Linked DNA regions of Homo sapiens: all the other regions are reported to be linked to region 1. Evidence: microRNA targets listed by miRTarBase, many of them from high-throughput screens and not tested one by one. Region 1 holds a microRNA gene; each other region holds the end of a gene's coding sequence. Distances are from middle to middle.
What was found. Region 1 holds the annotated microRNA hsa-miR-520d-3p (AAAGUGCUUCUCUUUGGUGGGU, at 1,116-1,137, opposite strand). A microRNA usually pairs through its seed, bases 2 to 8, with sites in the 3' UTR of a target mRNA and lowers its output. Matches are read on the target gene's strand: a 7mer-m8 pairs with bases 2 to 8, a 7mer-A1 pairs with bases 2 to 7 and ends in A, and an 8mer does both.

Region 2: miRTarBase lists MBNL3 as a target of hsa-miR-520d-3p. Seed matches in the 3' UTR shown: 8mer at 1,266-1,273.
Region 3: miRTarBase lists KCNK6 as a target of hsa-miR-520d-3p. Seed matches in the 3' UTR shown: 7mer-m8 at 1,367-1,373.
Region 4: miRTarBase lists KCNJ8 as a target of hsa-miR-520d-3p. Seed matches in the 3' UTR shown: 7mer-m8 at 702-708.
Region 5: miRTarBase lists FAAP24 as a target of hsa-miR-520d-3p. Seed matches in the 3' UTR shown: 7mer-m8 at 359-365, 7mer-m8 at 1,232-1,238 and 7mer-m8 at 1,697-1,703.
Region 6: miRTarBase lists GPR157 as a target of hsa-miR-520d-3p. Seed matches in the 3' UTR shown: 7mer-m8 at 1,511-1,517.
Region 7: the mRNA of DNAJC10 is a reported target of hsa-miR-520d-3p. The part of its 3' UTR that is shown has no 7-base or 8-base seed match.

What each region holds. Positions count from the first base shown.
Region 1 is chr19:53,718,171-53,721,285 of GRCh38, reverse strand. MIR520D (microRNA 520d) reads right to left here and starts at 1,190; the gene lies at 1,104-1,190. MIR517B (microRNA 517b) reads right to left here and starts at 210; the gene lies at 144-210. It also overlaps the pseudogene RNU6-803P.
Region 2 is chrX:132,377,057-132,380,171 of GRCh38, forward strand. It overlaps MBNL3 (muscleblind like splicing regulator 3), which reads right to left. Exons shown (of 9, transcript NM_001386889.1): 9 at 1-2,621. The coding sequence ends at 2,610. All of the region lies in intron 2 of RAP2C-AS1 (RAP2C antisense RNA 1), which reads left to right. Among named protein-coding and RNA genes, the nearest start is that of MBNL3, 110 kb to the right of the region's middle.
Region 3 is chr19:38,326,848-38,329,962 of GRCh38, reverse strand. KCNK6 (potassium two pore domain channel subfamily K member 6) reads right to left here. Exons shown (of 3, transcript NM_004823.3): 2 at 2,975-3,115; 3 at 1-2,783. The coding sequence ends at 2,560. Among named protein-coding and RNA genes, the nearest start is that of CATSPERG, 7.4 kb to the left of the region's middle.
Region 4 is chr12:21,763,170-21,766,284 of GRCh38, reverse strand. It overlaps KCNJ8 (potassium inwardly rectifying channel subfamily J member 8), which reads left to right. Exons shown (of 3, transcript NM_004982.4): 3 at 1-1,330. The coding sequence ends at 562. All of the region lies in intron 2 of KCNJ8-AS1 (KCNJ8 antisense RNA 1), which reads right to left. Among named protein-coding and RNA genes, the nearest start is that of KCNJ8, 10 kb to the left of the region's middle.
Region 5 is chr19:32,976,440-32,979,554 of GRCh38, forward strand. It overlaps FAAP24 (FA core complex associated protein 24), which reads left to right. Exons shown (of 5, transcript NM_152266.5): 5 at 1-1,790. The coding sequence ends at 243. RHPN2 (rhophilin Rho GTPase binding protein 2) reads right to left here. Exons shown (of 15, transcript NM_033103.5): 15 at 2,153-3,115. Among named protein-coding and RNA genes, the nearest start is that of FAAP24, 5.8 kb to the left of the region's middle.
Region 6 is chr1:9,101,942-9,104,941 of GRCh38, reverse strand. It overlaps GPR157 (G protein-coupled receptor 157), which reads left to right. Exons shown (of 4, transcript NM_024980.5): 4 at 308-3,000. The coding sequence ends at 523. Among named protein-coding and RNA genes, the nearest start is that of GPR157, 26 kb to the left of the region's middle. RefSeq lists an enhancer at 1-843.
Region 7 is chr2:182,776,549-182,779,548 of GRCh38, reverse strand. DNAJC10 (DnaJ heat shock protein family (Hsp40) member C10) reads right to left here. Exons shown (of 24, transcript NM_018981.4): 24 at 1-2,428. The coding sequence ends at 2,417. Among named protein-coding and RNA genes, the nearest start is that of DNAJC10, 62 kb to the right of the region's middle.

The sequences.
Region 1 (3,115 bases):
ACTCCCGCCTGGGCAACAGGGAACCTGTCTTGGAAAAAAACAAACCAAAGAGAACCCCAACATCATGCAAGTCTGATGATAAGCACGCTCTGCAAATGTATTACCAAGATCAGCAGCATCTTCAACGTTGCTTTTCTCAAACAGTAACACTCTAAAGGGATGCACGATCTTTTCTTAGACAACAGACAGTGCTTCCATCTAGAGGGTCACAGCATGAGGTCTTCTTGCTCCAGTACTGTAGGGTTCTTTTTTTTGTTTTTGTTTTTGTTTCTTTTTGACGGAGTCTTGCTCTGTTGCCGAGGCTAGAGTGCAATGGCACGATCTCGGCTCACTGCAAGCTCCGCCTCCTGGGTTCAAGCCATTCTCAAGCCTTAGCCTCCCGGGTAGCTGGGACTACAGGCACCCACCACCACGCCTCGCTAATTTTTTGTATTTTTAAATAGAGATGGGGTTTCACCGTGTTAGCCAGGATGGTCTCGATCTCCTGACCTCGTGATCCACCCGCCTCGGCCTTTCAAAGTGGTGGGATTACAGGCGTGAGCCACAGCGCCCAGCTTTTTTTTTTTTTTTTTTTTTTCAGACGGAATCTCACTCTGTCATCCTGGCTGGATGCTGTGGCACAATCTCGGCTCACTGCAGCCTCTGCCTCCCGGGTTCAAGCAATTCTCCTGCCTCAGCCTCCTAAGTAGCTGGGATTACAGGTGCCCACCACCACACTGGGCTAATTTTTGTTGTTATTGTATTTTTAGTAGAGACGGATTTTCACCACGTTGGTCAGACTGGTCTCAAACTCCTGACCTGAGATGATCTACCTGCATCGGCCTCCCAAAGTGCTGGGATTACAGGCATGAGCCACCATGCCCGGCTTTATTTTGTATTTTTATTCATTTGTTTATTTTTTGAGACAGAATTTCCCTGTGTTGCCCAGGCTGACCATTTGAAGCCAAGAGATATATTGGACATGTCACTGCACTCCAGCATGAGCAACACAGAGCCTTAGAATAAAAAAGCAAAACCAAAACAGAACCCCACCATCGTCCAAGTGTGATAAGCATGCTCTGCAAATGTATTACCGAAATCAGCATCAACTTCAACGTTGCTTTTCTCAAACCGTAACCCACCAAAGAGAAGCACTTTCTTTTCTTTTAGACAACAGAAAGGGCTTCCCTTTGTAGACTCACAGCTTGAGATCTTCTTGCTCCGGCACTCTGGGTTTCTTGTTGAAATTTTCCTTGACCTGGTCAAAATGGACACAAAAATAAAGATGCATTTATTGGTCCTGTTTGCATATTTTCTGGAATCTAGAACATAAACCGATACAAAGACCATCTCCAGTTCCTTGCTTCAAACGTTCAGCAGGTTAGCCTTGTTCATCGAGGGACAACTGTCCTGGGTTTTGTCTTCAAAGAGAAAAAGCAACGCCTACTACATATACCTTATATTCTCAGGAGTTAGACACCAGCCTGGGAAACATGGTAAAACCTCATCTGTAAAAATACAAAAGTTAGCCAGGTATAGAGGTGCATGCCTGTAGACACTAATTCAGGAGGCTGAGGTGGGAGGTTGAGGTTGCCGGGAGCCGAGATCACACCACTGCACTCCAGCATAGGTGACAGGGCCAGATCTTGTCTCAAAAACAAACGAACGAACAAACAAAAAATGCACACACCAACAAAAAAATGCCCAAAGTGATATAAGAGTATTCTCAGGGTGTAAAAGAGTCTTTTGTGTGTACATGATATTATATATATAAGAATATATGAAGGCCAGCCGCGGTGGCTGTCTGCAATCCCAGTACTTTGGAAAGCCAAGGTGGGCAGATCACCTGAAGTCGGGAGTTTGAGACCAGCCTGACCAACATGGAGAAATCCCGTCTACTAAAATACAACAAATTAGCTAGCCCTGGAAGTGTATGCCTGTAATCCCAGCTACTCAGGAGGCTGAGGTAGGAGAGTCGCTTTAACCCAAGAGGTGGACATCGCAGGGAGCCCAGATCACACCATTGCACTTCAGCCTATGCGACAAGAGCAAAACTCAGTCGCAAAAACATAAAAAATAATAATAATAAAAGAAACTTCCATATATTGTATGCTCACAGGAAGAATACTTCCTACACACAAGTGCTAGCTTTGGCAGCACGCATGAAAAAATTGGAATGACAAAGATTACCATGGGCCCTGCGCAAAGGTGACACTCAAATTCATGATGATCTCATATTTATCTATTTTTATTTTTTAACGTTTAATGTTTATTTAATAGTTTTATTTATTTATTTAGAGACAGAGTTTCACTCGTTGCCCAGGCTGGAATACAATGGCACAATCTCGGCTCACCACAACCTCCGCCCCCTGGGGTTCAAGTGATTCTCTTGCCTCAACCTCCCGAGCAGCTGGGATTACAGGCATGCGCCACCATGCCCGGCTAATTTTGTATTTTTAGTAGAGATGGGGTTTCTACGTGTTGGTTAGGCTGGTCTTGAACTCCCGACCTCAGGTGATCCGCCACCTCGGCCTCCCAAAGTTCTGGGATTACAGGCATGAGTCACTGTGCTCGGCCTATTTATTTAATTTTTGAAACAGAATCTCACTCTGTCACCCAGGATGGAGTACAATGGTGTGATTTCGTCTCACTGCAATCTCCTTTTCCCAGGTTCAAGAGATTCTCTTGCCGTGGCCTCCCAAGTAGCTGAGATTACAGGTGTCCACCACTGTTCCCAGCCATTTTTCCTAATTTTAGTATAGACGAGGTTTTGCCTTGTTTGCCCAGCTAGTCTTGGACTCCTGACCTGAGGAGATCCGCCTGTCCTGGCCTCTCAAAGTGCTGGGATTACAGGAGTGGACCACCGTGTCTGGCCTATTTTTTATGTTTTTGAGATGGAGTCTCACTCTTTTTGCCGAGGCTTGAGTGCAGTGGCGTGATCTCAGCTCATTGAAAGATCAGCCTTCCAGCTTCAAGCGACTCTCCTGCCTCAGCCTCCAGAGTAGCTGGGATTACAAGCATATACCACCACCATGCTGGGCTAATTTTGTATTTTTAGTAGAGATGGGGCTGCACCATGTTGGCCAGGCTGGAATCAAATTCCCGACCTCAGGTGATCCTCCTGTCTCAGCCTCCC
Region 2 (3,115 bases), not on the chromosome of region 1:
ATATCTTTGCCCAAAGTTGAAAAAGTTAAGTGAGACAGTTCACTGCATGCAGATGTCAAACTACACAAAAGTTCATTTTGCACAAAAAAGTTCTTGTCTCCTTTAAGGAATATATCCAGACTAGCTCAGGTGCATCCCTCCTGGATTCATGTAATCAGATCTGCCCTTCTGGAGAGGCACTGGCACGGATCATACAAAACTCAGTTCCATACATGATGAATTTCAAAAAGGCATACACTACTTTCTTCTATAGCAATGTTAAGATTTCAGAAATAGAAATTAACTGGTTCAAAGAGTCCATAGGTAAAGGTCAGGACAACTCTTGATCTCTAATTCCACGCAACATTGTCAACAGCTGACAATGACTCAATACAAGCAAGGCTGTTTAGAAAGCACTGTTGATCAGGATTTGGATGGATAATTAAGATCAACAGAGTATCAATTCCCAGAAAGCTAATTTTGCTCTCTTATATTCTGAGCCAAATGGGTCTGCTTTGGAAGAGAGCATCAAATGTTCTGAAGCAAAAACAATGTGAAAAGGAGGAACAATGGGAAGCAGGAGATATTTCTGGGTCCCACAATGGCTAAGGTAGCCTTGGGCAAGTCATATGCCCCTGGATTCAGTTCCATCAACTATAAAAAGGATTTTGCTAATTCCATTGTTCTGTGATTCAAACACTTCTAGCCAGCTTAAGGTATCCTCAATCAGATTTGCTTTTTACTTGTCATTTTCATGAAGGAGAAAAACCATTATATATATATATATATATGTATATGATGGTTTTATACTTTCTGGTGGAAGAGCGCCTATTTACTAGAAAATATTAAATCTATTACTTGATGTAAAATGTCATGTGTTTCCACCACTGTATAATAACATTAATAAATGAGTAGAGTGGATGAGATATGTCACACACCACAGGAATTATTTGGTTGTAAAATTCTTTCATAAATATTAGTAATGTGAACTCAGCTGAGCTCTGTGGAGTATAGCCACTCTGTCTCATTCAAAGGGTGATAAAACCCTTTCTATTGTCATTTTCAAACATATATAAAGGCAAACGAATCCAAACAAGCATAAAAGAGGCTTGGTTATGATGTGAGAGGGTCTGATGTTAAAGTTTGGGCAGGGGGACACTTGCCATATATCACAGGTGCTTTCTCCTTCACTGAACTGTTTAACAAAACGAAACTCAGTTGAACCGAAGCTAAAGACAACTACAACCATCTTTCCCAGTTCTTTTGAATAAATCAAGGAATAATTGTAAGTGCTTCCCTGTTCCCTGTCCTAGCCATTTCTCCAAGCCTGTACTCAGGCTCCCTCTGTGATCAACAGAGAAGACTGTCCATTTGGGGAGGGAAGTCCTCATTTGCAACCAATTCTCTTTCACCCTGACTGACTTTTGCTAGATTGCATCTTACTTGTTATTCAAAGAGTAGTCTAAAGAGCATGAGCCATTTGCATTTGGAAAATGGCATTTGTGTAAAAGGTGACATTGCCATGGTTTTACACACTTTCCTCCAGTACGTAAAAACTATCTCCATGCCCCCATCTCTCCGTTTGATTTATAACTTGTAATTAGCATATTTTTAAGCTCCCAAGTACCAGTTTCTCAGCTGAAGATGACAAATGGCTCAGTTTTAGACACTCAATTTAGGAGATGGGATTCTCAAGCCACACACACAAAAAATCTAATGAGCACTTTACATAATTTTTAGTATAAATGCTGAGAAATTCATTTAAAGGTAAAGTCTTATTTGCCAAGCTATTTAAGAAGAGTGAATTAGGGGTTAATGTTTTATGAAGTTCTCTGCTTTGTGCAGGTAATTATTTCTCTCTTTAAAAAATCTAGTAATTTGATTGTATTATGCAACATCAGATCTGCAGGTACAAATTATACACATGCATGTTAATGAGCAGGTTTTGTGCACATTCAAAAGTGAGGCGTTTTAAATGTCAGTCCCAAGAAACCTACAGAAATATTCTAAAGAAAGAGAGCATATTTGCATGAACCTGTCATGTTCTTAAGCACATATACTTCTGTTCCCCACTAATAACACTTTAGTTGAAATCAAACACCACACATATACAGCAAAACACTACAGTATGTAAAAACCTAACACAGCACAACACAATACAACACAAGAAATGGTACTGAATATATTTGTTACATCCTGAATCAACCCAATAGACTATCTTGTAAACAAAATAGTAAGGTAACACTTCAAAAACAGATGAACAATTTATCCACCAAGAATGTATATAGTAAGCCAAAAGCTCACTGTGGAAATACACTTAGCATGGTTATTAGAAAATCACAAAGAGTAATGTAACAAGTTACCAAATTTTATGGTCATGTTCTGCTTGATAATTCAAATAGGATGGATGGTAGTTACTAGTTTTCTATTTGTGTTGTTTTAACATCTCCATTGATTTTTAATGCTTTATTTTTTATTTGAATTTGCTGGCTGGCAGGTTTGCTTTGCTTAATACATTGACTGCAACACGCTTATTGTTGTGTTGGTAGAATAAGACATACGAGAATATATATAGAAAGGCCATATGGAGGTTTCCATGGAAAGATTCTGATACTCCATAACTCTGCTGTTCAGAATTTCAGCTGAAATGGAAAAAAAAAGAAAGAAAGAAAGAGTGAGAAATATTGAAAGGTTATTGAAGGAAGAGTCAGGAGAGTGTGGTGGGTCTTGTTCCAGTTCTGTCTGTTAACAGTGCCAAAATATCCCCAATCTGAATTTCAGATTGAAATGGGGCTTTTGAGAATGATCATGAAAGAACCATATATCTATGATAGTCTATGATACCCTTTGAGTGCTAATGTGGAGAACTGTCCTAACAGAGATGCAATCCAATGTTTAAGGCATTATCTATCTACTTTTTGTTGAACATACACCCATGTGTCCACCTTTCAACAGGCATGTACTGAGAAAACATGTTTGATACCGAACATTTTGAAATATGCAAATATTAAATACACTTTCAACTTTTTCTCTGAATGTTTTAGAGCCATGCAGAAGTAGCCTACCTGTGAAATCTGGGTATTGTATTGTACAAAATTACATTTTTGAACTTTAGAGGAATTTTTAGCACCTATTA
Region 3 (3,115 bases), 15 Mb from region 1:
ACCTGCTCTTTCTCTCAGGGATAACTGGCCACTCTGTGGGACATTCCCTAGCCGCGTCCCTCCAGTCTGTGGGGGCTATGGCCTGTCCACTTGGCTCCTGAGTGTGCCCGCACTCACCCCTCCTCCCTTCCATGGCTCAGCCCAGGCCCATCGTCTCCCTCTTCATTCCTGCCTCAGCCTCCCACAGGCACCCAGCCTCAGTACCCGCTCTGCTCCACCTCTCCAGAGCAACTAGGGGGATCATCCTAAAACCCAAACCTAACCATGACCCACTCCTACTCTAAACCCTTCCATGGCTCTCTAGGGCCCTCAGGAAAGAGACCAGGTTCCCATGCTGGTCATTTAAGGACACTAACGGGTGCTCGTGCGCACCCCTCTGCCCTCCTTCCCTCTTTCCCTGCATACCGTTCATACTAAACTGCTTGTCAGAAGCTGGTGGCCAGCATGCTTTTCCATCTCCAGGCCTTTGCACACAGCTCCTCCCACCTGGTATGCCCTCTCCATGCCTTTTCTACTTGTCTACTGTTGGGACCCAGCTCAAATGCCCCAGCCCTTTTTAAAATTTTTATTTTTGTAGAGATGGGGTCTTGCTATGTTGGCCAGGCTTGTCTCAAACTCCTAGCCTCAAGTGATCTTCCCACCTTGGCCTTCCCAAGGTGCTGGGATTACAGGACTGAGCCACTGTGCCCCGCTTCTTTCCTTCTTTTCTTTTCTTTCTTTCTTTTTTTTTTTTGAGACGGAGTCTTGCTGTCACCCAGGTTGGATGCAGTGGCGCGATCTCGGCTCATTGCAGGCTCCGCCCCCACCGGGGTTCACGCCATTCTCCTGCCTCAGCCTCCCGAGTAGCTGGGACTACAGGCGCCTGCCACCTCGCCTGGCTAATTTTTTGTATTTTTAGTAGAGACAGGGTTTCACCGTGTTAGCCAGGACTTACTTTCTTTCTTTTTCTTTTTTTCTTTCTTACTTTTCTTTCTTTTTCTTTTTTCTTTCTTACTTTTCTTTCTTTTTCTTTCTCTCTCTCTCTCTTTCTCTTTCTTTTTCCTTCCTTCCTTCCATCTTTCCCTTTCTTTCTTTCTTTCTTTCTCTCTCTTTCTTTCTTTCTTTCTCTCTTTCTTTCAGACAGGGTCTCACTCTGTCCCGCAGGCTGGAGTGCAGCAGTGCCATCATAACTCACTGCAGCCTCAAACTCCTGGCCTCAAGTGATCCTTCCACCTCAGCCTCTGAAGTAGCCAGGATCACAGGCATGCACCACCACACCCAGCTAATTTTTAGATTTTGTGGTTGTTGTTGAGATAAGGCCTCACTGTGTTGCCTAGGCTAGTCTCAAACTCCTGGCCTCAAGCGATCCTCCTTCCTCAGCCTTCCAAAGTGCTGGGTGTATAGGCGTGAGCCACCACACTCAGCCTGAAATCCTTTTGAAGTTGTATTATGATGATCACCATTTTACAGATAAGGAAACAAAATCAGAGAGGTAGTGTGACTGCCCAAGGACACAGGCCAGACGTGGCTAAGTTGGGATTTGAGCTCAACCAGGCTGATTCCAGGGCACAACATACAAATGTGGACAGCTCTTACAATGGTGTCATGGTTAAGGGCAGCACCTCCCATGCCATTCAGATCTGGGCTGGGGTCCTATGTCTGTTTCCTGCCTGCCAGGCTGCTGAGGAAGAGTCTATCGCCCAGGCCTACACCAGGGGTCCCTCCATGGGTCCTGCTCCCTGGAGACACCTGAGAAAAATGAGTCAGGTACAACTTCTTCCTGCCTATTTCTCATAGTTCAGGTCTTAGTTCGATGTCCCTTCCTCTAGGAAGTCCTCCCTGACTTTCCAGGCTGGATTGGGCCTAGTCCCTATGCTTCTCCGACTTCAGCCCTGACCACTCTGCCTGTGCTTTCAACACCTCACCTCCTCCATTAAAGTCCTGACCATTTTGGGCCATCACTGTCTGGGGACAGGTCTGTCCACCTCACTGGACTGCAAGCTCCATAAGGGCAGTTCTCCACCCCCAACTATGTCTCCAGCACTGTCTAGCACAGGGCCAGCACACAGGAGGGGTTTAGGGGCAAATTCTTCTATTCTTCCCATTTGGCAGCTGAGGAAATCAAGGCTCAGAGACGGGCAGTCACTTGTCCAGGGTGTAGCGACCAATCTGGTGCCTGAAATGAGGTCTGAGCCCACAGCCCAGTAGAATCAGCAGTTGACGAGTGGTTAATTGAGAGACACAGACGGAACATGAAAGAGAATGAGAAACAGAGACAGCAAGAGGGAAAGACAGAGGCAGCGAGAATGCCAGAGAGCCAGAGAGACACAGTGTAAAGAGGATGAGAGAAAGGACAGAGAACAAGGTTATGTTGGTGCCCAGTGGAGCCCGGGACATGGGGACAGGGAGTGCTGCCCTTCACATCCCAGCCAGATGCTGGGAAACAAAGGAGAGACGGTGGACGGCAAGGCCTCAAGATCACCTGCTGTGCTCGTGGACATTCCTGTACAGCCAGCTCTGGTCGCCTGGACCCCTCAGTCCCAGGCCAGGCACACCCAAGCCTGGCAGAGGCTGCCCCAGCTACCTGGGGATGGAAGCGTAGTCGGTGTGGGAGCTGGCAGAGAGTTGCTGGTGCGACTCCGGCTGGGGGCCCAGGATGTCCACCCGATCGTCCTCATCCGCATTGAAACTGGCAGGGCACGGAGGGGGCAGCAGGATGAGCTCCGTGAGGCCGTGGAGGTCGGACACGTGGCGGAAGGTCTGCAGCACCAGCACCATGGCCACCAGGCCCAGGAAGAGGTAGACTGTAAAGGCGGAGAAGGGGCGTTGGTCATCCTGGGGCTCAGATTTTCCAGGCGGGGCCGCAGTTCTACTGGACCCTGCAGGGTGGGGTTGGATCCCTTTTGGAAGTCCCAGAGTGGGACTGTGAGCCTTTAACTCCCCCAGGGACAGGGCTAGGTCCTCCTCAAAGCCCTGCCCTAGCCACCCAGCTCACCTGTGACCAGCACCTTGTAGAGGGCCCGGTAGGGCTGGCCAGGGGCCTCCCCGGGCACGTAGTCGCCCAGGCCGATGGTGGACAGAGAGATAAAGCAGAAGTAGAAGGCATCCAAGAAGCTCCAGGCCTCCTCGAGGTGGG
Region 4 (3,115 bases), not on the chromosome of region 1:
GGAGGTGGTTCCTATTCACCAACTGGACATTCCTGTTGATAACCCAATCGAGAGCAATAACATTTTTCTGGTGGCCCCTTTGATCATCTGCCACGTGATTGACAAGCGCAGTCCCCTGTATGACATCTCAGCAACTGACCTGGCCAACCAAGACTTGGAGGTCATAGTTATTCTGGAAGGAGTGGTTGAAACTACTGGCATCACCACACAAGCACGAACCTCCTACATTGCTGAGGAGATCCAATGGGGCCACCGCTTTGTGTCCATTGTGACTGAGGAAGAAGGAGTGTATTCTGTGGATTACTCCAAATTTGGCAACACTGTTAAAGTAGCTGCTCCACGGTGCAGTGCCCGAGAGCTGGATGAGAAACCTTCCATCCTTATTCAGACCCTCCAAAAGAGTGAACTGTCTCATCAAAATTCTCTGAGGAAGCGCAACTCCATGAGAAGAAACAATTCCATGAGGAGGAACAATTCTATCCGAAGGAACAATTCTTCCCTCATGGTACCAAAGGTGCAATTTATGACTCCAGAAGGAAATCAAAACACATCGGAATCATGACAGCAAGATAACCCCAAGACAGTCTTTTATCAAGTTTTGACGGTTTATGCTGGGCACTGCCAGACTGAACCAGAGCTGGAACACAATAATGTGTCCTTCTACATTTTATTACACTAAATGATATTCATATTCAAGCAACAGCACTTTCTGTAGTAATAAAAAGTAACACACCAAGTGGAGGATTCATGGCTTATGCTTGTTTCATACATGTAGAATTCGCAGTGATATACTTAAGTTATGTGCAGGGGTGGGTATGCTCGTTTCTCTCAATTTGAAACACAAGAATTACACTAATAGTAACAGGCCTTGAGCACAAAATTTGGTCAAGAAATGAGTCTGTTTGAAATGCTTAGTTGGTGAAACCCAGATCGCTGTGTTACTAATGATCACTCTGGAAATGCAAATAGAATAGGAGGGGAAAAAACAAAATCATGTTAATGCGTTTTGTACATCAGCCTTCTCCTGTCTCCATGATAACTGCATTTGGTAGGAAGCCTGAGGCAAAAACTGCTTAAGTGGATCTGTTTGTAAGTGGATTCAGTTCATTCGCTTTGTCTGTCGGTGACTCCTGAAGGTTTCCTGGTCCATCTCATTGCGGCCTGTTGGGCAGAGCTGGACAAGGTGTCTTTGAAGGAAAGCTAAGTCTTGTCTCATTTAGGACTGGGTTCCCCACAGTGACAGTCACTTCCTTCAGCATCTCACTTCTTCTTCTAGAATCCCCACAGGGAAATACTGTATTGAATATTTTATTAAAACATTTTCTTTGTACTCACTGTAGTTTTGTGATTCCTCTTTCACAAAATCATCCCAAGTTAAAACTCAAGATGTTTTTAGAGCCATGTAAAAGAGATGTCAAAGTGATAACACTCACTCTGAGATTCCTCTCTCTCAAGTCTGTTTGCTCCAAAACTAGCTTTTTTTTGCTTTGTTTTGATTTTATTTCAGGTTTTAAAATGTCCTCTTGGTTTTTCAATCTAAGCCTGACATACCATAAAAATCCTATAAGCTTTTTTTTTTAATCTTCAATCTCCCATCTTAAAACTATACTTCCTTCCCAGTAGTATCTGAATTTAGGCTTGGCATTTATAGATTTAGCATCATCTCATTTGCTAAAGTGAGATTTTCTATCAAAGCTTCATTTAAGCATATTTAGTGCCTGCTTCTTCAAGGAAGGGATGAGACAGGAGAGAGAAGTACTAGGTTAATAAACTATATATGCTTTTATTCTTACATTTTATAGCTAAACATCAGAAAGCTGAGCTATTGTGAAATCTTTCACACAGATTTGGGGGTTTGTATTTATGAACATTGAAATAGGTAATTATGAAATGTTCTATCTTAAGACTCATGATTCCAACCAGGTGAACAGAAACTGTTTATCACGTCATTGAGTTAATCATTCCTGAAAGGGTTCTAACTGTTCCTCTGAACTCCAGACTCACAGATCAAACAGGCACCTGAGGCTCCACTTGGAGATTGAACAAGCATTTCAAACTTACTAGGTCTAAAACCAAATACTTCATTCTCACTCACAAAAGCTGCCCTCCTCCCAGTCTTTCTTCCAATCACTCAGGCATCAAGCCATGACCTGGAAGTCATTCTTGCTGCCTCTTTCATACCCTACATGCCATCCATTAGCAATTACCTCTCGGCTCTGCCTTCAAAATATATCCAGAATATGACCAATTCTCTTTACTCCACCACTTCCTTCATAGTCCAAGCAAGGATACTGTATATATGCATGCATCTGTACCAATTGTTTGAATATTAAAACATTTCTGTCTAGGTTGCTAAAGACTATCTTAATAAAACTTAACCCAACAGCAACTATGGAGGTGGATATCAGACCTCAAAGCAGTTCTGGAACAGATGCAGGTTCCCACCTTCCCACCCCAGGGCAGCTGAGCAGACCCAGAGGTAGCTGCCACACAATCCAGCAGTAAGAACATGGATAGTGCCTTCCTGCTGCTCAGTAGTAGCCCAACTTTGTAGAGGTGACACAGGCTGTGCAACAGGTGATGTCAGGACATAGTGGAGCTGAGATGCAAAATTTCTGAGTCCAGGGTCTAGAGAATTCCCTGGCACCAGGGGCAAAGCTAGCTATGGAGTACGGGAAGTTCCCCCAGCCACCTTCCAGCTGCAACTAAACGCTGAGTGTCAAGGACCTAATGACTGTCAATATAATGGGCATGTCAACGAAAGGTTATGAGGGGCTCCCTATGTCAAGCTGTGGCTCAGACAGGGACATCATTTAGCTAGAGACAGCCACACCAAACAAAAGGTTCTATCAACAATTTCTAAAAGTCTGAAAATGTTTTAGAGAGTATTAAAATGATTTTCTGACCTATTTTTGCTAAAACATATTTCACTGGGTAAGCAATTTTGAGAACTACATAGTTTTAGAAGATAAGACGGACTCTGTACATATATATGTGTACATGTATGATTTTGACTTACATATTGTGTTTAAATATTATTTTATATTCAGTATTTTGGTTCTCTGCTTCTACCCTTTCTTCCACCTCCATAATTCATACAGCAGCCACAATATTT
Region 5 (3,115 bases), 21 Mb from region 1:
CAAACCAAAGAGCCCAGTAAGAACCCTCTTCTCGGGAAGAAACGGGCCCTGCTGCTGTCTGAGCCTTCGCTCCTTCGAACCGTGCAGCAGATCCCAGGAGTTGGAAAAGTTAAAGCTCCCCTTCTCCTCCAGAAGTTTCCAAGCATCCAGCAACTGAGTAATGCTTCCATTGGGGAACTGGAGCAGGTGGTCGGACAAGCAGTGGCACAGCAGATCCATGCCTTCTTCACGCAGCCCAGGTGAGGGCTGGCCTCAGGGCCACGGCATCTTCTCCTGAGACCACAAACACCAGGATCTTGTTTTCAGCTTTAAAAACCAAGAGAATGGGCCGGGTGCACTGGCTCACGCCTCTAATCTCAGCACTTTGGGAGGCCGAAGACAGCGGATCATCTGAGGTCAGGAGTTCAAGACCAGCCTGGCCAACATGGAGAAACCCCTAAAAATAGGAACAATTAGCCAGGCATGGTGACAGGTGCCTGTAATCCCAGCTACTTGGGAGGCCGAGGCATGAGAATCACTTGAACCCGGGAGGCGGAGGTTGCAGTGAGCTGAGATCGTGCCACTGCACTCCAGCCTGGGCACCAGAGCGAGACTCCGTCTCAAAGAAAACAACAAAAAAAAAAAAAAAAGAAAAAGGATTTTCTCCAGCAGCAACCAGTGAAAGATGAGGCGAGGCTTGAATGGAGCCCGTGGGTCGTCCTGCCTTAGCGTCTGAGTTCAGCTTGTGAAGTTAGTGGGCCGCAGAGGGCACTGCCTTCATTCTGCTAAGACGAAAAGGGCTGGTGGGATCTTCGCAAGAGAGTCAGGGACTCACACTCAGCAAAAAGCATTAGGGCCGATTTTAATGTGCGACCTTGACCTGCATCTGTCATGGAAAGTGCCTTCTAAAAAGCTTCAGTGGTGGATGTGACCATCTGAAGGAAACAAATGTACAAGGAAGCACTGTGTATCCTAAGCCCTGGGTTCCCAGAGTTTCACCTGCTGTTCATCAGGTCTGGCCTTCATATACCCGTACTGCGAGGGCTGTTTCCAATGTAAATAAATAACTGCGCAACAGTTCCTTCCTCCTTTCCTTTGTTCCTCCCTCCCCCCGGCCTTTTTTTTTGGCAGATGTACAGTTTGTTTATAATCACTGCATATGTCTTCTGCACACAGAAAGTATGAAGTCTGAAGTTCCCACTTAAAGTTGAAAACTCAACGGCCGGGCATAGTGGCTCACACCTGTAATCCCAGCACTTTGGGAGGCCAAGGGGGGTGAATCACAAGGTCAGGAGATCCAGACCATCCTGGCCGACATGGTGAAGCCCTGTCTCTACTAAAAATACAAAAATTAGCTGGGTGTGGTGGCACACACCTGTAATCCCAACTACTCAGGAGACTGAGGCACGAGAATCGCTTGAACCCAGGAGGTGGAGGTTGCAATGGGCCGAGATTGCACCACTGCACTCCAGCCTGGATGACAGAGTGAGACTCCATCTCAAAAAAAAAAAAAAAAAATTTAAAGTTGAAAACTCAACATGCATGAGGCAGAACAGGCTGTGTTTGTATATGAAAGGCCCAACAATGGAAGGATACAAGAAAATGATGGCAGCAGCTGCATCTAGTGAGGGAAGCAGGGGCTGGGGATCAAAAGGTACAAATTGCCCATTCAAAAAATAGACACAGGCCAGGCACAGTGGCTCACACCTGTAGTCCCAGCACTTTGGGAGGCTGAGGTGGGAGGATTGCTTGAGTCCAGGATTTCGAGATCAGCCTGGGCAACATGGCAAGACCCCATCTCTACAAAAAAATCAAAAAAATTAGCCAGGCATGGTGGCTCATGCCTGTAGTCCCAGCTACTCAGGAGGGTGAGGTGGGAGGATTGCTTGAGCCCGGAAGGTTGAGGCTGCCATGAGCCACAATTGCGCCACTGTCCTCCTGCCTGGGTGACAAAGCGAGACCCTGTCTTGAAAAAAAGACAAAAACAAAAAATAAGCACAAAGATACCATCTGTCTTAGAAAATACTAAGATAACTTGACAGCTTTTTAAGTTCTGCTTTGTGAAATGTTAGTAACTAAAAAAATCAGAACATTAGAAACTGTGTGCATTGGGGAGAAACAATTTGAAAGAGGAGGGAATGAAAATGAAATAAAAGTAAAAAGAAATATTAACTCGGGTAAATGAATATGTTTATTTAAATATGTATACAAGCATGGCCCTAGGAGCAGCAGATACACTTTCCCAAAGGTGGTTGCTTCCTTTAAGATATTGCACAATAGAAAATAAACTCTTGTCAATCCTTAAAATTAGTCTTCAATGCTATGTATTTTAGCTATGTAACTTGTACTGTGTCAACAGTGAACCTTATTAGATTCACGGTGTCATCGAACTTATAGCAAGATAAAAATCAATCAGTAGGAATGTCATTTTAAAAAGTAAAATAGTGGGACGGTTGTGGTGGCTCATGCCTGTAATCCCAGCACTTTGGGAGGCTGAGGTGGGTGGATCATTTGAGGTCAGGATTTCGAAACCCGCCTGGCCAACATGGTGAAACCTCACCTCAACTAAAAATACAAAAATCAGCCAGGCATGCTGGAGGGCACCTTGTAGTCCCAGCTATTTGGGAGGCTGAGGTAGGAGAATCGCTTGATCCCAGGGGGCGGAGGTTGCACTGAGCTGAGATCACACCACTGCACTCCAGCCTGGGCAACACAGCAAGACGCTATCTCAAACAAAAAAAGGAAGTCAAATAGAGCTTTAAACCTGAATCATTTACATCTTTACTTTATAAAATGTAAAACTACTTTTTTACCCAAGACTTAAAATATAGAATTATGTAACTTCTACTTTAAACAAAATGAAAAATGTTTTGAGTATCAAACAGTATATTATCTACCTTGTAGACAGCATCTTCATCTAACACTGCCACTGTGTTAGTAATTCTTAAATGACATCAAACTAGAAGAAAAGCTGCTCCTACATTGTTTTTATTTAATAAGACAAATTTGGCACTAGACTTTTTCTAGAAATAGCATTCATAGTCTATCGATATAATAGTAACATCTTGTTTTAGGTTAATGAATTCCTATTAGGAAGCAGCACTTTGGGACAGTTTTTAGTGACACTAATTTAATT
Region 6 (3,000 bases), not on the chromosome of region 1:
TGCAACTTCCGCCTCCTGGGTTCAAGCGATTCTCCTGCCTCAGCCTCCGTGTCGCTGGGACTACAGGCGCCCACCACCATGCCCAGCTAATTTTTGTATTTTCAGTAGAGACAGGGTTTCACCTTGTTGGCCAGGCTGATCTTCAACTCCTGACCTCAAGTGATCCGCCCACCTCAGCCTCCCAAAGGGCTGGGATTACAGGTGTGAGCCACCGCACCCAGCCTAGCCGTTTCTCTTAATTGCAACAGCGCGTGTGTTTCTGAGACCAACTCCAGCCCCATGCTCACAGCTCCTTTTCTCCCGACAGGGTATCGGGAACACGTTTCAGGGAGGTGCCAACTGCATCATGTTCGTCCTCTGCACCCGCGCCGTCCGAACTCGGCTCTTCTCTCTCTGTTGCTGCTGCTGCTCTTCTCAGCCTCCCACCAAGAGCCCGGCTGGCACTCCCAAGGCTCCCGCGCCTTCCAAGCCAGGAGAATCTCAGGAATCCCAAGGGACCCCAGGGGAACTTCCAAGCACCTGAGCTTTTGTCCTTTCTAGTTCTGTGCATAGGTGCTGCCTTCCTGGGGGTAGGCACTTCTGTGAGTCCCTGCTGCAGGGGCAGAAGTGCATGTCTGCTGCACCAGAAGCCCCCGCTATTGATGCTCTCGGCTCCATTGGGAGAGCAGCTGCCAACTCAGCTTCTTCTACCTCCTAGATCCTCAGGCAGCAAGTTCCACCGGTACCAGCGTCCTGGCCCACGGGTGGGCGTTCATCTGCATAAGGGTAGCAGTGAGATTCGGGAAGCCGGTGGCCCACAGCTGTGGCCACAGTGCCCCCACCCAGTGGACCTTGATGTCCTGAGGACCACACAGCACTGTTTACAATCTGAGGGACCCACATCTGTGCACCTATCCTCTGTGTGATTAAATAAGCTGTCAGGGGCCCTCAGAGATGTGTCCCCATCCACACATCATGGAGCAGATTCCCGGCTGGTCAGGGTGTTAAGATTCTCTGGAGAACCCGGCTTTCCTTGGAGACTTTGCTCAACAGAGGAACCAGTTGCCATTCACCAGGTTGAAGGTTCCCCTGAGGTTGCATGGTGACCACCAGGGGCAAGCACAGCCCGGCGCAGCTGCTCAGGGACAGCAGTCTCCCCGGGCCTCCTGGCCTCTCCCTCCATGGGCTGCTAACCCTTGCCGTAGCTTGGGTTTGAGTGTCAAGCACAGGCCAGAATCCACACTCCTGTCCCCACCTGTCAATCACTTCAGACACAGGTTCCCTCCTTCCAATTCCAAAGCTGGAACAAGGGCAGGAAGAGGCGTCTCAGGGAACCCCCGAAGACCCCACTGTCTCTCCAGCTCCTTTCTTAGAATCCTCCTCTTCTTGGGGAGACCAAAGGGGATGAGTAGGGAGGGGTTCTGGCTTATTTACTTCTTAGTTTAGTTTTTTGTAAGTAAAGTGGCCGGAGAGATGAGTAATCCAAATACGATTCCTCAGGCCGGGCACAGTGGCTCACACCTGTAACCCTAGCACTTTGGGAGGCCAAGGCAGGCAGATCACCTGAGGTCAGGAGTTCAAGACCAGCCTGGCCAACATGGTGAAACCCTGTCTCTACTAAAAATACAAAAATTAGCCAGGCATGGTGATGCACGTCTGTAATCCCAGGTCTTTGGGAGGCTGAGGCAGGAGAATCTCTTGAACCTGGGAGGCGGAGGTTGCGGTGAGCCAAGACCACACCATTGCACTCCAGCCTGGGCAACAAGAGTGAAACTCGGTCTCAAACAAACAAATACGATTTCTTCCTAAAGGTGAAGGTTTTAAGCTTCAGAGTCAGTTTTTTTTTTTTTTTTTTTTTAAAAAAGGAGCCTCATTCTGTCGCCCGGAGCTGATGTGGTGGTGCGTGCCTGTAGTCCCTACTACTCAGGAGGCTGAGACGGGAGGATCCCTTGAGCCCAGGGATTTGAGGCTTCATTGAACTGGGATGGCACCACTGCCACTCCAGCCTGGGCAACAGCAGGACCCTGTCTCAAAAAAAGAAAAAAACAAAGGATTCAAAAGGATTCAGCTGTTTTGTATTCAGCTGAGGTAAGTGGCGGCATGGAGCATGGAGCGATTATTTACATTTAAAAGAAAAGAATTGAAAGTAAGCACCTGTATCTCTATTTTTATTCTGTGGGTCTTCCACAAACGCTTTCGTCTTATTTCAGAAAACAGCTTCTGTGTTCAGTCACAGGAGCCATCGGCAAAGAATGGAAGTGGAAATGCTACCTCCAGGGTCTTGGTGAGAGAAAGTACAGCTTTACCTGATAGGTGATTTCCCTTGGAATCCATCAGAACTCGACAAAGCATGATTTTCTGAGCCTAGTAAAATGGTTCTGAATCAAAACCGAAGTCACGCTGTGCTGCCGATCCCTGTTTGACTCTCAAAACCAAAATCTGTATCAGGAAAGGAATAATCATTTAGCAGACTGAGTCCAAAATGCTCATTTTTGGTTTCCTGTGAAAATGGATTTCTTTTTGTCGCTTTCTTTTTTTTTTTTTTTTTTTTTGAGATGGAGTCTCACTCTATTGCCCAGGCTGGAGTGCAGTGGTGCAATTTTGACTCACTGCAACCACCGCCTCCCAGGTTCAAGCGATTCTCCTGCTTCCCAATCCCAAGCTGCTGGGATTACAGGCATGCGCCACCATGCTCGGCTAATTTTTTGTATTTTCAGTAGAGACGGGTTTTCACCATGTTGGCCAGGCTGGTCTCGAACTCCTGACCTCAGGTGATCCACCCACCTCAGCCTCCCAAAATGCTTCGATTGCAGGCATGAGCCACTGTGCCTGTCCAAGAAAACAGATTTCTTGATGGAAATTAGTGAGACAGACATCCCCTTAGGATTGAAAGAGAGCTCTGGGCTGCTCCAGGGAAAGCCACTTGGCAGAAATAGCCTCTGTAAGTGAATTCTGGATTCCCCTGAAGACGTTACAGCAAATCTCTGGGTATGTCTCTGGTAAAGACCCTCACTTGAGCTT
Region 7 (3,000 bases), not on the chromosome of region 1:
GGATTCAAAATCCTGAGCCCAAGCAATCCCTCCTGCCTCAGCCTCTCAAGTAGATGGGACAATAGGCGCACACCACCATACCTGACTGTAAGCCACATACTTTAAATGGACCTAATTTCCAAGCCTGGCTGCCTGATAGAATGTGCTTTGGTCAGCTAGAATTGATACCATGTTAGAGGGTCAGCTGCACACAAAAATGGTGTTGCTGAGAGAAATGGCACATTATACCTGGTACTCCTTAGAGGTGCTCTATCTACTGTATCAATATAGCCATTAAAAGCTCAATCTGCCAGCTGTTTTTGAAAGACCCAATAATACTGTTATGACTATATAAGATAACCTTGATGTATGTCACTTTATGATACGTGTTTCTTAACATGACTCCCAGGGGGCCCTGGCTTAGAGCTGATTCCAAAGGCACACAGCTTAGGTCAAATTATAGGACACATAATATTTACTATTTTATTTACTGCCTAAAATGTTTCTCAACAACTAACAAGTACAGGAAACATTTATAGGTAGTAATGTAAGTACCTTATGAGCTCAATGACAAAACAGTGAATTACAGACAGTTGGAAGATGGGGACCATGTCTTAGATTCCTTTTGAACACTCCTCAGTGTCCAGTGTGGTGATATGCACATAACCAGTATATTTTAGTAAGTATTTACCCAAGTAAGACTTCTTTAGGCATTCCATTTTGGGATTCTTGTAGAAAGAAGCCAATTTTGTAGAACTCCTAGGCTTTAAACATTCGAGAATGAAAGGCTCTTGCCATTACTGATCATAATTCAAAAAGCTGGTGTTAAGTGTGACAAGTGGTGACTGTTCCATATATGCCAACAGGCATACAGCAGAATCCAGACAGAGTATATAGTAGCGAAAAAGATGGGAGAATATGAAGAACAAAGTCTATTTTAACATTAATTATGGCTATAATAACCCTTATGAGGAAATACTGGTGAGCAGGATAAAGTGATATTGAAAAGAAAAAAAGGAAAACTCCTCAAAACACAATAAAGCATATTCTAACAGGTTTTTGAAAAAGTTGCAAGCCTTTTAATTCATTGACCTCTTTTGACTGATTGGAATTTTTACCATTCTGTACACTCTGAATTATAACTAAACAACTACATGTTACTGACAAATTTGTGATTCTTTGAGTCTAAACAACACAGAAACTAGAAGATCCCTTTCCTAGATTTATATACTTGATTTTCTTATAAAAATAACTTCAGTTATTATGTCAATATTTATCTGAAAAAGGCAGCCCTCTGACAGTAAACTAGTAACTGGAATAACTACAGTATCATTATAAGCTACAGTAAAACAACCTGTAAAGTAATTTTTCCTATTTGAATAATAAATAGACTGGACAGGAGTGAAAAACCAAAACTACGAAAGAAAAACCCAATGTAAATAAAGGATACAGGTCAAAACAAAGTTCAGAAGGCAAATATGTAAATATTAGATGCCTCAAAAATCAACTATCAGTGGGAAAATTTCTATGAAAGCAATTTCAGAAAATACATGAACACATATATCTTTAAAATATAGAACTCTAAATACTTGATAACATATTTAGGATACTCTACAATGCCCAGTTAATTGCTATAATTTTTTTCCCTCAGGTTTTCCTGGATGATACGGCAAACTACAGAATTTGTGCACTTACTGTTGCTCAAATTTGTGTACTTACTGTGTGCACATATACTGCTGCACTGTTTCTCGGCTGTGAAAAATTAAAAGCATTTTTTCAACCTTTGAGAAGGAAAGAAAACAATGAAGAATCTCCTCATAATAATACAGCATAACAGGGTTTGTTTACTGTGCCACATCATGGGTGTTTTTAAAACGAAATATAAATATATGGTTAGGGATAGCATTTTTAGGAGAACAAGTGACCAAAAACTAAGTTACCTCTTTTCAGGTCAGCCAAAAAACGTGAAGGGAAAGTGGACTTTATACAACTTAGACATTTATGTAGATAGCACAGCAGACTCATGTTCAAGCCAGCCACCTGAAACATTATAAGTCCGTCGAGGGGGACAGCAATCTATGGTCCATGGACTGAATCCAGCCTACTTTTGTATGGCTCTGAGCTAAGAATCGTTTTAATATTTTTTAAAGGTTGTTAAAAGCAAATAACAAAGAATACATGATGACTCTATTCTTGTTCTCATGTGTGAACCATATATTATAGCCTGCAAAGTCTAAAATATTTATAAACCGGCCCTTTACAGAAAAAGTTTGCAGACCCTTCTTTTACACCAGTGCTGTAGATAATTCTGGCAGTACAACTGCAAGTCTAAGATAATGTTCATTCATTCCCATCATAAATGTAACATTCTAAATAGGTGTCTTCTGATGTCATCTGTCAGAATTTCTTTTAAACTTTTTCTTCATCTTCAACATTATCAAAGTTCATCCTATAATAATAATGTAAAGGCGATAGAGAAAGGAGAAAGTATGAGTTGGTAATGTTAAAAATAAGGTGAAATACCACAAACCAACATTTTACTTTTTCAGAAATACTCAATATTCTTATTTAATGGATCATGACATGAAATATACTTTGCCAAAATATAACAATAAAAAAGAAAAGAATATCCTAGTTCTTACCTGCTCACAGCAGATATTACTAACTATATAGGTTTACATAATTTCAAGCATATTGGGTATTCTCTTTAACTTAATTTCAGGTATGATATTTTAGATTATGACAATTTTTAAATTTCAAATATTTAATGAGATAAAAGTTACACCTTTCAAAATAAAATATCTTGAGAAAACTAATATAGCGAAACACTAGAAAAACATGTTTGTTCAGTGGAACCAAGAAAATACAGACTCATAACTCTTTCCTACCTTTCAGATTCGTAAAAAATATTCTTGAGGTAGGTTGTAAGGCTTTGTCTATTGGGGTCTGCAGTTTGAACTGGATTACAGTAGAACCTATTGTCTAATATGGTGCTATAAAGCCAGTCTTCTCTAGCCCTTT